2 separate regions of the Homo sapiens genome follow, and region 2 is linked to region 1. Evidence: fine-mapped expression QTL. Tissue or cell type: whole blood. Region 1 holds a variant in brackets; the other region holds the start of a gene. All regions are shown on one strand. Distances are from middle to middle.

Evidence for each region. PIP is the estimated chance that this variant, and not a neighbour inherited with it, causes the effect.
Region 2: it holds the start of PDZK1IP1, and the variant in region 1 is fine-mapped to the expression of PDZK1IP1 in whole blood (TOPMed, PIP 0.96).

What each region holds. Positions count from the first base shown.
Region 1 is chr1:46,560,719-46,568,821 of GRCh38, forward strand. MKNK1 (MAPK interacting serine/threonine kinase 1) reads right to left here. Exons shown (of 13, transcript NM_001135553.4): 8 at 7,725-7,780; 9 at 4,323-4,418; 10 at 1,931-2,125; 11 at 760-924. MKNK1-AS1 (MKNK1 antisense RNA 1) reads left to right here. Exons shown (of 8, transcript NR_038403.1): 6 at 2,794-2,858; 7 at 7,488-7,579; 8 at 7,764-8,103. Among named protein-coding and RNA genes, the nearest start is that of KNCN, 13 kb to the left of the region's middle. The variant C/T (reference allele first, on the strand shown) is at 3,905.
Region 2 is chr1:47,186,579-47,194,662 of GRCh38, forward strand. It overlaps PDZK1IP1 (PDZK1 interacting protein 1), which reads right to left and starts at 3,458. Exons shown (of 4, transcript NM_005764.4): 1 at 3,288-3,458; 2 at 741-849. The coding sequence starts at 3,354. RefSeq lists a silencer at 3,739-4,033 and an enhancer at 4,863-5,812.

The DNA of each region.
Region 1 (8,103 bases):
GACAGGGACTGGGTCTCACTTGTCCCTCTGGCATGTGGCAGGTGCTCACTTATGGGTCTGGGAATGAGCCAGTTAGACACTCAAACTGGGTCCCCATCTGCAACATAGGATGGCAATGCTTGCCTCCTTCCACTGGTAGGGTCACTGAGGCTGGCCAGAGCCTGGCACACCAAGGAGACCAGAAAGTCATGGGAGCATCTGGCAGACCCCTTGGAGGGCAGAGGTCAGGTATTGTGAGTAGCCAAGGAGGATTTTTAAAAATGTTTTCTAGTGAAGACATGAATTCTAAGCTTAGGGAAAAAATACGATCATTTGCCTTTCAGGCCAGCTGTACCCAGACTCCCAGACCATGAGGAGAACCTATGTGCCCCAACTCGGCCACACAACAATCAGCGCAGCACGGCCTTGCTCACTTCTGGGTGTCCTCAGCTAATGATGCTTCTATATAAGAGGAGGATGCTACAGACTTCAAATGACAATAGGATGCTTGCGGGGCTGGGTGCATGTACCAAATCCCCAGAGGACTCTGTTGGGGCTTAGTCTGTGGCCAAGTTTACAGCCAACTCTATGGCCTATAAGGGGCTCAGTCTGGGGTAACAGGAGGAGTCGATTCACTCTACACACTCAGGGATAGACGCTGTCCTCTTCAGCTGCACCAGCCACAAGGCTGGTGCTCAGCACTTGCTGGCATGACAGCTTCCTTGTGGCCATGCCACAGGCCTGAAGTGGTGGAAAACACCCCTCCCTGGAGTCACTCACCCCCTGCACCCATGGGTGCTGCAGAACTTGGGCGGCGCTAAGTCTCTGCTTTGCATCTCGCACCAGGAGCTTGGAGATGAGGTCTTTGGCTTCACTGGAGATGTGTGCCCAGTCCTTGTCAGGAAACTCATACTTGCCTTCCTGGATGCTTTCAAACAGCTTGTTCTAGGTACAAAAGATTCCTCCTGAGGCCACACTGCCAGGGATGGGCAGGATGTGCCTGTCATTGTTTTGATCAACCGGCTTCAATTGATCTCAGCTGTAGCTGCAGCTCATGGCTTGGGGATGCCACAGACTGGGGCCTCTTCCCAGACTCACCCCGCACTGTCCCCTAGATGATCAAACTATATAGAATGCCCTTGGCAGGCCAGGATGGCTATGCCCTTGGTGGGCTGGATGGGTGATGAGTGGAGATCACCCATAGAACAAAGCCCAAATTCCTTGGCTCTTCCTAGAGGACTCTCTGTGAACCTCTCAGGCCTCATCTCCCACTACCACCGACCTACTACTCCACTCTTCCTTCCTAGACACTCCAGCTATTTCATGTGCCCACATCTATGCCCGTGCTGTTCCTTCTACTTGTGATTCTTGTCCCTCTTCCGCAGGGCAGGATGCACCCTTTAAGAGTCAGTTCAGGGCTGGGCGCGGTGGCTCACGCCTGTAATCCCAGCACTTTGGGAGGCCGAGGCGGGAGGATCACAAGGTCAGGAGATTGAGACCATCCTGGCTAACACGATGAAACCCCGTCTCTACTGAAAATATAAAAAATTAGCCAGACGTGGTGGCCGGCGCCTGTAGTCCCAGCTACTTGGGAGGCCTAAGGCAGGAGAATCGCTTGAACCCAGGAGGCAGAGGTTGCAGTGAGTCGAGATCGTGCCATTGCACTCCAGCCTGGGCGACAGAGAGAGACTCCATCTCAAAAAAAAAAAAAAAAAAAAAAAAAGAGTCAGTTCAGGCATGATCTTCTAACAATCCTGCCCTGAACTCCCAGCTGGGCGGAGTGTCTGATTATCTCTATTTTACCTTGTGGCCACCGTGACAGGAGCGGGAGAGGGCACTATGAGCCCCCATCCCGATCAGGAACGCTCTCCCAGCCCAGTCCTGCTTGGCATCCCCCAACCACACTGACCCCTAGCAGGGTCTACGCAGTGCTCCCTGGGGCCGCACTCACCTGGCACACCCTGCAGACCTCGCCCCGGTCCCAGCCACAGTCGGCCCCGCAGTGACCCACGAAGGGTGGGTAGCCACTCAGCATGATGTAGAGGACCACGCCCAGGCTCCACAGGTCACAGCGCTTGTCGTAGAATGTGGCCTGGTCCGTGAAGACCTCCACTACCTCAGGGGCCATGTATTCTGCAGAGCCACACTGTGGGGGCCAGGGTTGGGGGAGGGGGAGATGGCAGAGAACAGAGAGGCTTAGTTACAGCAGAGGGGATGGCAGAGAGCAGACTGTGATGGGACTGGAGCAGGAGGCTGGAAGGATGAGATACAGATCAGGAAGGCCAGCCAGTGAGCCGCCTGATGCCACCAAGGCATCTGCAGACTGAGCTCCATCATTTTCCATCATCCAGAGGAGCAGTTCAGGTCACCTTATCCTTCCAGTTCCTCCTCCAGTAGGCAAAGACCCTTGGCCAAGAAGTTCCAGGAATCTCCCCCTGCTTCAGCTTCCTATAAACAGATATTTCATGTACAGGTACTTAAATGCACCAAGAATGTGGCTCTGGAAGGAGATCCAGTTCCACACAGCAAGATTTCTTAAAGTGAATCCTGTCGTGCTCCCCTGCTAGCTCAGAGCAGGAAGTGTAACAATTAAGAGACCGTCAAAGCTACAAAGCTCTTAGAACAAATCCAACCTTCCCACCCCTCCCATTTATAGATGGCAAGGGCAAGGCCAAGAACGGGACAGGGATCTGTTTGAGCACATCAATGGCAGCCCTAGGACCAGAATCCAATATTCCTTTCTCTCACCCTTGTGTAGAAAGCGGCTGATAGGAATAAAACACGTTCTTTTTGCTCCACTCTTCATTATTTCAGGCTCACCAAGAAACAACCACCTCCCGCCTCCACACACCCTGCAAAACTAATTTGACTGAAAGATGGTAAGTGTTCTCAAGAGAGGATATTTTCTTTGTTATTGTCAATTAGAATTAATGACTTTGAAAACAAGGTAGTCCAGTGTGTTAGAAGCTAAGAAAGAAACATTCCTGATAATGTTGTTTAGAATAAGATACAACACAGGCATATTAAATATGCCCTTAAAGGGCATGTCTTAAAAGGGTTATTAGGGGCCAGGCGTGGTGGCTCACGCCTGTAATCCCAGCACTTTGGGAGGCCGAGGCGGGTGGTTCACAAGGTCAGGAGATCGAGACCATCCTGGCTAACATGGTGAAACCCCGTCTCTACTAAAAATACAAAAAATTAGCCAGGCGTGGTGGCGGGCGCCTGTAGTCCCAGCTACTCGGGAGGCTGAGGCAGGAGGATGGCATGAACCCAGGAGGCAGAGCTTGCAGTGAGCCGAGATCACGCCACTGCATTCCAGCCTGGGCAACAGAGCAAGACTCTGTCTCAAAAAAAAAAAAAAAAAAAAAGGGTTATTAGGAAAATTTACTTGTGAAGCATACAAATCTCAAAAGAATCATAATTATACTCTATTAGTTATACAAGAGATGTTTTAGGAAGAAGTAGCTCCAAGCAGCACCATCTGGTCATGAAATGTGAAATCAGAGAAGCAAACAGGCTAACTTGGCCAAGCGATCCCATGTGCATATAGCCTGAGACCTCACAGTTCCCACCACAGAGAGACTATCCTGTCCAGTCAGGGAGAACAGCTCTCCATCCCCCATTACAAGGGGGCTGCGCTGTGCCTTCAGCAGTGGGAATAGGACTTACAGAACTACCCAAATGCTCATATGCAAAAGGGCTGGCCTGGGAGTAGGGTCCATTTTCACCTGGGTCAGGAGTCAGGGCTCAGCCTGTGTTTTTTTTATTGTTTTTTTTTTTTTTTTTTTTTTTTTTTGAGACGGAGTTTTGCTCTTGTTGCCCAGGCTGGAGTGCAATGGTGCTATCTCGGCTCACCGCAACCTCCACCCCTCGGGTTCAAGCGATTCTCCTGCCTCAGCCTCCCAAGTAGCTGGGATTACAGGTG[C/T]GCGCCACCATGCCTGGCTAATTTTGTATTTTCAGTACAATGGGGTTTCTCCATGTTGGTCAGGCTGGTCTCAAACTCCTGACCTCAGGTGATCTGCCTGCCTCAACCTCCTAAAGTGCTAGGATTACAGGCATGAGCCATTGCAAACGGCCAGCCTGTGCTTATAGATATAATTTGTCTCTTCATCAGCAGAGAGGACCCAACCCAACTAACAGTCCAAGTGTCAGTTTCGTTAGCAACTAAGGGGTCAGGGGAGGCTTGAGAGCCACGAACACAGAGCAGCAAGCAAAATGATCACTCAGGCAGCAGGAAGATAGGTCCACTTGGTTTTCCATCCTTAACCCTCTGTTCTGGACCTCCCAGCTCTGGATCAGGGAAACACTCCAAATACTTAGGAGCCCAGAGGAAGCATACGTACTGGGGTGGTCAGCTCTGGTGTGGTTATGGGGGTACAGGAGTTGTTCAGTTTCATCCCACTGCCCAAGTCAAAGTCACAGATTTTCACTGGAGACACCTGAAAAGGAAAACAGAAGACAGGGTCACAGATATAAGAAACTACGGGGCAAGAGGAGCCAGGCATGGCTGTACGGGTGCATGGCTCCGTGGCTGTCACACCGCAGCTGGTTTTGTCAGGTCATGTTTGCTCTCCGGAGGTTAACAAGAAGTCCCCTGAGGATTTCTTCCCAAGTGTCTTATTCCCTGAGCTCTCTTATTTCCCATCTAAGGGAAAAATGGGTGGACTATTTGGTGTCAGATTATTGTGAACTCAGACTAAAGGAAGTATGGAACTCTTGCTGGCAAATGATGGTACAGGTTGCAGCACAGCAGCTAGGGAAGTTACTGTGTACTCCTGAGAGACAGACTTCTTGCAGCCCATTCAGTGGAGTGTAAAGGAGCTTGCAGTAAAACCTCTGACCGCCTCAGGTGGCTTAGGGTGACCAACTTGTCTTGGGTGGCTTGCTTGGGACTTGATCAGTTTAAACACGGAAACTCCTGCGTTCCAGGAAACCCCTCAAGCCTGGGAAAACTGGGATGGTTGGTCACCGTAGGTGGCATCAACACAGTAACCAAGTCCACCAGAACTGGATGCTGTGCCTGAGACCACAGACAGGTGCCTCATCTCTGGAGCCAACCAGGAAGGCAGTTTGGGTGCACACATGAGAATGGATGAGAATGGCCTACATGGCATGTAAGCAGCACAGCGAGTGAACTAAATGCTGGTTCTCTGAGACCCATGTCCTTGCCGGGAAGCCTGGGCAAGTCCCTCGACTTCTTTCTCCCCTTCCTTCCTCCCTCCCCTTTTCTCTATTTTTTCTTCTTTTCTTTTTCCTTTAGCCTCTTATTAGTGGTAAAATATAAAGCATAAAATATGAGATTTTAGCCATTTTTAAGTAGACAGTTTAGTGGTATTAATTAAGTACATTCACAGGGTTGTGCAACCATCACCACGATCTGTTTCTAAAACTTTTCCATCACTCCAAACAGAAACTCTATACGCATTAAGCAATAACTCCCATTCTTTCTTCCCCTAGCCCTGGGTAACTTCCAATCTGACTTTATTAATTAAGACTTTCTGTCTTTATTAATTTGCCCATTCCAGATATTTCATATAAGTAGATTTACACAATATTTGTCCTGTTATGTTTGGCTTATTTCACTTAGCATAATGTTTTCAAGGTTCATTCATGTTGCAGCATGTATCAAAACCTCATTCCATTTTATGGCTGACTAGTATTCCATTGAATGTATGTACCACATTTTGTTTATCTGTTCAGCTGCTGATGACCACTTGAGTTGTCTCTACCTTTTTGGCTGTTGTGAACAATGCTGTAATGAATACTGCTATACAAGTATCTGTTTTCAATTGTTTTGGGTAATACCTAGGAGTGGAATTGCTGGGTCATATGGTAATTCTGTGTTTAGCCTTTGAGGAACCGCCAAACTTTTCCACAGAAGCTGCACCATTATATAATCTCACCAGCAATGTATGAGGGTTACGATTTCTCCATAACCGTAACAACACTTACTATTTTCCATTTTTTAAATTACAGCCTACCTAGTAGTATGTGGTGGTATCTCATTGTGGTTTTGACTTGCATTTCCCTAATGACTAAGGATGTTGAGCATCTTTTCATGTACTTGTTGGACATTTGTGTACCTTATTTGGAGAAATGTCTGTTCAAGTCCCGTGTCCATTTTTAAATTGGTTTGTCTTTTTGTTGTAGAGTTTTAGGAATCCTTTATATATTTTGGATATTAAACCTTGACCAGATATATGATCTGCAAATATTTTCTCACATTCTGTAGATTGTCTTTTCACTTTCTTGATAGATAATGTCCTTTGAAACTTAACCTCTCTTTTTCTTAAGAGACAGGGGTCTCACTATATCACCCAGGCTGGCCTCAAACTCCAGGCTCAAGCAATTCTCCTACCTCAGCCTCCTGAGTAGCTGGGACTACAGGCATGCAACCGCTGTGACCAGCTAATTTTTAAATTTTTTGTGGAGATGGGGTCTCGCTTTGTTGCCCAGGCTGTTCTTAAGCTCCTGGCCTCAAGGGATCCTCCTGCCTCAGCCTCCCGAAGTGTTGGGATTATAGGCGTGAGCCACTGCCTGGTCCCAATTATTCCTCTCTTTCGCCTTGCCTTTCCTCACGTTCTTGTTATGAGACAGAATCTCTGCTGCCCAGGCTGGAGTGCAGTGGTGCAATCATGGCTCACTGGCTATACATGTTTCCTAACTTGAGTTTCAGTTTCCTCGTCCATAAAATGAAGGTAATAATAGTATCTACCTCATGATATTTCATAAACACTAAATAAATATAAGTGCCTGGCACAATGTAAGCACTCAAGAAGTGTTCACTGTAATTATTAGTAGTAATCATCATAATAATGATAAATTATAAAGGTCTACGACAGAATCAGTGACAGAAGTCACAAGATCTTATTTGAGCGAATCCATTATTATTCCCCATAAAAGAGTTGTGAGTAGCAGACTGACTCATTCATTCAAGGCCACCCCTTATTTATGAGCCGCGGCTTCATCCAGACCACAATATATATGCTCTTGAATACACACATGTATATACACGCAGAGCTGTGAACGTGGGCCCCAACACCACCAGTGCCTAAATCTCTCCTAATAAACACAGAATTTGTCAAATTCATACACTTCCGTTTACTTAAAGAGATCTGCTTCACATAAGATTAAGTTGTTTGGCTGGGCATGGTGGCTCACGTTTGCAATCCCAGTACTTTGGAAAGCCAAGGCAGGTGGACTGCTTGAGCTCAGGAGTTCGAGACCAGCCTGGCTAACATGGTGAAACCCCTGTCTCTACTAAAAATACAAAAATTAGCCAGGTGTGGTGGCACATGCCTGTTGTCTCAGCTACTTGGGGGGCTGAGGTGGGAGAACCACTTGAGCCTGGGAAGTCGAGGCTGCAGTGAGCTGTGATCATGCCACTGCATTCCAGCTTGGGTGGCAAAGTGAGACCCCGTCTCAAAAAAAAAAAAAAAGTATTTACGACTTCCATCAACTGATATAAAGATAGATGCATTGGACTAGAAAATATTAATTTTGTGCAGGTCTCATATATTTTCCAAACTCTCAGGCTTACATCAATCACACTGATGATCAAGAGCGAAGAAAGGACGAGGATGGGCAGAAACATCACACAGTAAGTGTAACATTCTCACATGTCCAAGACGATCAGTTCAAGTTGGTGTCTGAGGCCAACGGAACTGCTAACAATCCATCCTGAAAGCAAGGGTGGCTTCCTCGGTAAGTATAAACTATAACATTCCAAATCAGGCCCAAAGTACCTTTTCTGGAGATTCACACAATATATTTTCTGGTTTCAGATCACGATGAGCAATGCCTGACATGACAAAGAGCAAAAAAATGGTTAACATATGCAGATAATTATCAAACATTCCACACACAATTAATTTTTTCCAAATGCTGTAGTTCGCAGATTAATTCCCAATTATGGTACATTAAAAAATCAACGAGCTGCAGGAGGCAGAAGTAACCAGCGACACAAACCAAAAGCACAGTTGATTCTGCGGGTTCTTTTGAAGAGGAGGCTTTAGAAGTCTGGCAGGGATAAGAAGGGCTAAATGAATCCCAGCCAGCCTACCCCTCAGTACCACAGTGACCACCAAGAAGAAGGCCTAATGCAGAGCAGAGCAGAGAGCTCTG
Region 2 (8,084 bases), 630 kb after region 1:
AGGGTCCTGACCTGGTGAGTGCAGAGTGAGCTGGATTTCAGCCCACCTGCCCTTCACCTGTGTGTGTCTGTCCCCAGCAGCCCTGGTGCCGTGCCCCTAACTCAGGACCTGGGTGTACCCTTCCCTCAACTGCAGCGCTCTTCCCACGCCACTCTATCCTGGTAGTGACTCCTCCTCGTTAGTCAGGTTTCGGGATAAATGTGCAATGGGGAAGCCTTCTCTGGCCACCCCGGACCAGGTCAGGCCCTGCAGTGTCCTCTGCGCTCTCCCTCAGCAGCAACTCTTGAACTTCTGACAGCTCACTCCAGTCTGAGCCTGTGAGGGCAGGAGGTGTGTCTGTCCCATGCCCTCTCTGTACCACAGCTGACCCACCCAAAGGAGGGACCGCACCTTCTAGAGGTCCTTACAGCCCCCATCACAGGCTGGGCCGCTATCCTGGCTCTGCGGAAACACCAAGACTCCAAGAAGCGAAGCCGTTTCCCCAAAACTCACAGGGAGTGGGCACCAGAGCTGTGGGGCCCACAGTGCCCAGGTCTGGGAGCCAGCAAGCCTAGGCTCTCATTCCCTCATCCCGACTGTCACCAACCCACCCCATGACCTTGAGCCTCAGTTTCCCTTCCCTTGAGCCTCAGGGGGAGGATTGGACACAGGGTTTCTGAGGCCCTTCTCACTGCTACTAGAGCAAGAGCAGTGGTCCTGGGCCCACCCTGCCTGCTCAGGGACCCTTGGGCAGCACTCACGGCTCCTCCTGGCACCAGAAGTGGTTGACTGCAAAGGCGATTGCAACGAGGACCAGGAACACGGCCACCGCGATAAGGCCCTGCATCCAGGGCTGAAGGTTCCCCAGGCCTAACAAAGGGAGAGGGGCTGTAGCAGACGGGGCCACAGTGGGGCTGCATGTGCAGGAGAGCGAGGGGCCTCACTCTTCAAGGACCCCACCTATGCTGAAGGCCCTCAGCCAGCTGCCAGGAGCAAGGAGACATTGTGGGGAGGCAGGGGTGGGATACAGCCCATCTGACCCACTTATGCATCTTAAGCTCCACCGAGCTTAGGAAAAGGAGGGAGCTGGAGGAACAACAGAGGCTCAGAGAGAAGGGAGTTGGAAGGAGTGAGAAGCCAAGGAGGGAAGAGCCTCAGTGCTGTATCTAGGCAGCCCAGAGCCTCTTTCCCTCCCGCAGGTGGGTCACATGCAGCCCCAGGGACCAAAGGGCAGCCCCCTGGACAGCCGGCCTAGGCCTTGCAGCTGGGAGTGGCTCCCAGAAGGCTGAGGAGGACCCACAGCTGACAAGACTGGTCTGGGATCTAGAAGATCCTGTTCTGTAGCAAGACGTTTCTCTGATGGTAGGAAGGGTATGAGAGTGGGAGACTCTCAGGGCTGCTCAGCTGGGGAGATCTGGGGTGCCTGGGGTACCCAGAGAGAGGAGTGGACCAGGACATCTTTAGAAGGGCAGAATGGAGGGGTGAACTCTACTCTGGGTCTTGGGGACCAGGAAAGAAGCCTCAAAACCTGAGCTCCTTTTGATTCCCCCAGCTGGGTGCCCAGGGACTAGGGCCAGAGATTAGGTTGAGGCCCCAACCTGCACCCTTCTCTACTTTTTTTATTTTTTAATAGAGACAGGGTCTTACTACGTTGCCCAGGCTGGTCTCAAACTCCTGGGCTCAGGCGAGCCTCTGGCCTTGGCCTCCCAAAGTGCTGGGATTACAGGCATGAGCTACTGCACCAGGTCCCTTCTCTGCTTTTTGACCCTTGACACCAACACAGTCCCTCAAGATTTTCCTGAAGTCCCTGCCTTCAGGCCTCTGCTTCCCCAAAGGACTTTCCTCTTCCCCAGCATCACTGCACTCCATGAGCCTGCAGGAGCTCAGCCTTGTAGAGAAAAGACCCTCAGCGGGGAGAAGTCCCAGGACAAAACACAGGTCAGCAGGGGGCTTCAGAGGGGTCCTGCCTCCAGGCCAGAATATACCTGCATCCCTATATTTTGAGGGACCCAAGCTGGACATGAGAAAACCTTCCTCTGGCTCACTCCTGCTCAAATGTCCTCCTTTGAGTCTACCAAAAGCTCTCCTGCTGCAGTGGAGGCCTGACCTCTTCTCCGAGCCTGGCAAATATTGGGAAGGAGGAAGGAGGCTAGGAACTCTCTGGCCTGTAGTGAGGTCAGACCTCACTTATCTCCAGGGGAAGCAGAAGACACACAGTGTGATTACCCTCAGTTCCACACCTGCCAAAAAGCAGTATTTGGGAGTCATTGTTTCCCTAGGGGTTCAGACTGCTCCCTCAGGTCAGTGGTTGCTCAAGCATGGGGAGTTAGGGCTCAACCCTTGGAGGCCCCTCCCTGTTTCCTCCTAGACCCTGCAGCCAATTCTCTCCAGTCACCCCAGGGACCACAGTCCCTGCTCCTCCTCCCATGCACATACAGCAAGGGGCAGTGTCTGGGGCAGGAGAAAGGTGGTCTGAACCCTGTCCTTTCTTGCCGTGCTCTGTGACTCAACCTCTCTGGTCTGCAGTTCCCCAGAGGGCTTCCAAGACCTGGGAGACAGAGTTGAAGCAGACACACATAAGAGCTCGGGGTGGGGGTGGGAGGGGAGCTCTGAAAGCATCTTTGCCAGTCCCCTCTGGACCAAGTCCCACCTGCAGAGTCCCCAGACTTTGGCTGCAGATGCAGCCTGACAGTGTAGAATGAAAGCCAGACCTTGGGTTAGTTACTTCACCAGGTGCAAAGCCCTTCTTCACCTCTGACCTGGCAGCAGCCCTGGGAGGTGGGCAGGGTGGGGTTTATTGTTCTCATTTTATAGGTGAGAAAACTGAGTCTCAGGAAGGGGCAGTGATTTGCTCAAGGTCACACATCCATTCAGGCAGAGCAGGACGAAGAGGTCAGATATTTGGGGGAGTCACACTGGGCACTGTTCTCTATCCAAGCCCAAGAGGCCGAGACAAAGCCCAAGTCTTTGAGGGGTGGCTTGGGCCCCACTCTCACCCTACTTGTACCCCCGGGTCCCCTGTACTCAGGACCCAGCCATCCCTTGGGCAATGCCTGCTCTTGGGGCTTGGGCCTCAAATCCTGTTCCTCCCTGAGATCCTAGAACCAACTGCTGCCAGTTTTCACTCGTTGAAAACAAGTGACAGGCAGAGACTTGGTTCAGAGGTCTCTGCCTTGGGACATTCTTTCAGCTAGCGCAGTCCCTGCTCCCCCTCCAAACTGTAAGTATCAAGGCCCTGGGGAGGGGAGCCAGAACACCACCTGTCCACCCCTGGGTCTCCCGTGCCCAGCCCTCTCCTCCTGAGCTACCTTGCTGACAGCTGGCAGGTGGCACTGCCGTGAGCAGGCCCAGAATGAGGAGGCTGAGGGCCGACATGGCTGCAGCAGCTCCTAGCCTTGCTTCTGGCCGCCGGTGTCTGGGCTCCTGGAGCTGCTGTGGAGTCTATTGGTGTCCGCCTGAAATCAACCTGGGCTCAGTCTGGCCCTGGAGGAGAGGAGCTAGGAAGGAGGAAGGCGAGGGAGGGAGGAGACACGAAGACGGGCGTCGGAGAGAACGTGCCCTCCCTCCCATGGTAATGAGCTGCCAGACCTGGCCTCCCCTGGCTGGTGCCCAGCTCACTTGGGCTGGCATTCGAGGTCATCTTCCAGGGGCCAGCTAAGGAGGTGGGTATGAGGAACAAGCAGATGTGGGAGAGTCCCAGCCTCACCTCCATGCCCTGAGCTCCCTTTTCCTGGCAGTGGGGCTGGATTCTAGGGAAAGGGGTGACACACAGTCGCTCCTGCCTTGACTGAGCCCAGTGGGCGGGGCTTCTTGGAAGGCTGACAGTGGGATTAAGAAATGTCCTGGCTGGCTCAGGAGCCTGGGGAAAACCCCAGAAGCCCAGAGAAGGCTCAAAGCTGCCAGACTCCGCCGAGAGCCTGGCCTATTTCCTGTTCTCCCCACCACCTGCCCCTGCCCCGCCAAGCTAAACTCTGGGACTCTAATGCTGGGACACACTACGGCTTCAGTGCCTTCCACGCCCTGGCCCAGCCCAGTAGCTTCCTAAATCCACCCCCTTCTGCAAAGATCTCAATAGAGGGCCTGAAGGTCCCAGTCCCCAGCTTTCACAGCCCATGCCCAGGCCCTGACCCAGCACAGCTAACCTAGTCCCAGTTCGGTTCTTCCTCTTGGCCCCAGATGTGGTCCCTGGAAACCGGGCAGGGCCTCAAAACAAGATACAGCCTTGGTCAGAGGCTTCAACACCCAACTTCAGATCCATCTCCACCCATGGCAGAGGAGAAAATGGGCAAACACAGCCTGCTGTGGGGGACAAAGGACGGACACCCCAGATGGCAAGGTGCGATCTGGGGCCCTGAAGCCCTGGGCCCGTCACCCTCATAGCCAAAAGCAGCATTGAGGAAGGCACACCTAGCCCCTGGAACAGGGAGGCCCTGGAGCCAGAGCCCTCGGAAGAGGCAAAAGCCTCCCCAGGATCACGTGGTGTCCACCTGGCCCTCCAGCTCAGGGAATGAGAATGGCCAGAGTTCCTGTGCAAGCCCCTGACCAAGGGTCATGCTGGTCTCCTTGCCCCACCCCCCACCCCAGAAGTATGGGAAGCTGAGATGCTGACTCCCTAGAAAGGAGCGGGCCAACTGGAACAAAGTCTCATCAGAGATGGAAGGTCCCCAGGAGCCAGCACCTGAGCTGAAGGCACCTCCACAGCCTCTCTTCCCTGAAGCCACCAAACTCCTATTCATCAGGCCTCCTGGGCAACCCTTCCTATGGCAGGTTGATTCTGCCTTCCTGCTCCAGCGGGAGCACTCAGACATCATGCCTCAGGCCTGCTTCCTGTGTGTGTGTGTGTGTGTGTGTGTGTGTGTGTGTGTGTGTGTGTGTGTGGTGTGTGTGGGTGTGTGTGTGTGTGTTCACATGCGTGTGCAGTCGGGCCCATTGCCATCCAAAGATGGAGTGTCTCAAGGTGATCTGGGAGAACTTTGCTTGGAGTTGAGTGATGCCTCCCAAACATGTATATCCTGGCCTCCCTCCCACACCCAACTTGGTGTCCTCAGAATCTTCTAACACAGACTGGAGTAAGCACTGTGCATGTTAATGAACAGCCAGAGAATCACTGATTGGAATGTAAGGAATGGGGCTGAATTTAACAAACATCTACTGGTGCCTTCTCCAAGAATTTTAGGGAGGAGAGTCACATGGTTAGTTTTGCGTTTGGGAAAACACCTCTCCATGCAGTGTGGAGAGTGAAAGGGGCATGCAAAGGCTGGAGAAGAGAAATCCAGGGATCTGCTACAGTGGCCACAACACCAGTGCCTGGACCTGGGCAGGAAGTGCCCATGGGAACAGATCTGAGCCCTGTTGAGGAGGTAGAGAAGCCGGGGTGTGGCTGCTGGAACACAGTGCCAAGCTGGGAGAATGGGTACAGGCAGGAGGCAGGGCTTCAGGTGACTCCCAGGTTTCTGGCGTAGGCAGCTGGGTAGATGCTAGTGCCTCAGTAGGGGCCAGAGCAAGTTTGGGGGGTTGGAGGATTAATGAGCTATAGATTTTGAGGTATTATGCTTGCAGTGCCTGTGGACTTTCCAGAGGGAGACATCTGGAAGGCTGCAAAATCCCTGCATCTGGAGTGGAACATCTGGGAGCCGTCTGCAGCACAGGGATGGTAACTGAGGCCTGGGAGCTCATGGTCTCCCCAGTGTGTGTAGCGGGGGTAGGGGTGTTGAGGGGAGAGCACAGAAAGAAGGAGACACGCCCCCAACACACAAAGGTCTTTCAAAGGAAGAAGGGGCAGGAGGAAACAGGAGGAAGCAACCCCAGGAAAGTGGGGTATCCCAGGAGCCAAGCAAGGACAGACTTAAGGAGGGTGGGGGGGTCACAGCTGTGCCACCCCCTCCAACCAGTGCCCTCAGCACTCAAGTCCCAGGTTCTGCCTTCCCCACCCCAGTATCCTCCACTTCCCTGAAAAACCCAGGGAAAGGAAAGGATCCCCTGGGCTATGCTTTGGGAGTGGTGGGGGAAGGGGATGAACAGGAAGGACACCAGGTGATCAACAGGAGGAAAACATACCTCCTGGGTCAAAGTCCCAAGCTTTAGAGCAAAACAAGTTGTTCCAGAAAAGAGGGAGCATGGGTGGACACTTGGCTTTGAGGCTGGTCCCTCCTCCCTGGAGGTCTTCACACGGGTGGAGGGTCATCTCCCCAGCTGTATGGACACAGCCCTGATCCCCATGGTAACAAGGTGGGCCCCCCTACTGGTCTGGCTGGGGCCCAGGGTCTGGACTAAGGTCTCAGCAGCCCCACAGGGCTGCACCGTGTGTCCTGAGCAGCTGTTCCATCGACGTTCAGTTCCTCCTTCCTGTTCCAGCCCAGCTGTCACGCAAAACCATCAGGCCCCTTAGACAAGCCCTCCATCCAGCCAGACCTTATGCGATTGCCCTTCAGAAAAGCCAAAGTGGGCCTGGACTGTTTCCAGCAGTCTCCTTCCTCCCAACCCCATCTTGTCAGCCATTCCACTCACTGCCAGCAGGTGGCAGTGTCTAGCTCCAATACCAGACTGGGCGTGCAGGGAGCCAGTTTGCTGCTGAAGATTCTGCAACTTCCCCTCCCTCCAGCCCCCACTTTTGCCCTCCTCCAGGGGTGGTCTGAAGAAAGGGACGGTGGACATTGACATGTAAATAGTCTGGGAACAGCATACAGGGAGTGCTCAGGGCTCTGACATAGGGCAGCGTGGTGGACTACATTGCTAAGGAAGGCATCCTGGAGGAGGTAATGCAGGCAAAGTTAGCCAGAGTGTTGTACTCGGCAGACAGTCTGGGGAGAGGAATCCAGGCAAAGAGCTTAGCCTGAGAAAAAGTACAGAGAACATTCAAGAAGGGTGTTTAGAACACAAATATAAAAGCTTTCTTTTTTTCCCTCTCAGTGTCTCTCTCTGTCACCCAGGCTGGAGTGCAGTGGTTCAATCTTGGCTCACTGCAACCTCCGCCTCCTGGGTTCAAGCGATTCTCTTGCCTCAGCCTCCTGAGTAGCTGGGATCACAGGCGCCCACCACCACACCAAGCTAATTTTTGTATTTTCAGTAGAGACGAGGTTTCACTATGTTGGCCAGGGTGGCCTCAAACTCCTGACCTGAAGTGATCAGCCCGCCTCGGCCTCCCAAAGTGCTGGGATAACAGGCGTGAGCCACCGCGCCCAGCTCTTTACTAATTCTTATAATACTTCATCTTGTTAATATCATTGCTGTAAGCCAGAGAGCTCCTGGAGACCTTGTTTTATTCTTTCAAACGTATCTTGCTTAAACCCTTTTATGGCATTCATCAGCCCTTAAAATAATATGCAAACTTCTTTGCATGGGTTTGAGGGCACAGGCAATCTTCCTTACCCACCACTCCAGCTTGGTCTGGCCCCGGAGCCTCCTGTCACTTCCTAACAAAAGCCAAGCTCTTTCCCACATCAGAGACTTCTCTCCACTTGCTCTTTTCTCTGCCTGGAACACTCTTCCACTCCTATTTGCCCAGCAAACTGATCTTCCTTTACATCCCTTTCTTCAAGAATACTTCTTTACTTCCCTTCTCTCCCATCTGAAGTCACTCCCTTCTATGAGTCTCCTTTGCTCATCTCCTCACAGCCATGATCACAAGTTGCAATTACACACTGATTTGTATGTTTACTCATTTAATAACTGTCTCCATGGAGGGAAGGTATCATGTCTATCTCTCCCTCAGCAGCCAGTACTGAGCACAGTGCCTGAGTACACACTCGACACACATTTTATGAAATTAAATGTCAGTATATGCAGTGCCTACCACTGGCCTAACAAAGAGCAGAAGCTCAGAGAAAGGTTGTTCAATGAATAAAACATTTTAGCTGTAGTTGAGTCCTTGTCTCTCTCCACTCTCTATCTGTGGGGCAAGGACTGTGTCTGATTCATCTCTGTATGTGAAGGAGAAGACAAGGCAACCATTCCTCTGACAGTTAGAGCTGTTCAGCCTGATATGAGGGTGTCCTGGAGGGTGAGCTCTCCTTCCCTAGACATGTAAGAGCAGAGGCCATGGACCAGGTCACCCAATGAGGTGTCTGCAAAAGGGGTTTGTCTTAGTCTCTTTGTACCACTTTAAT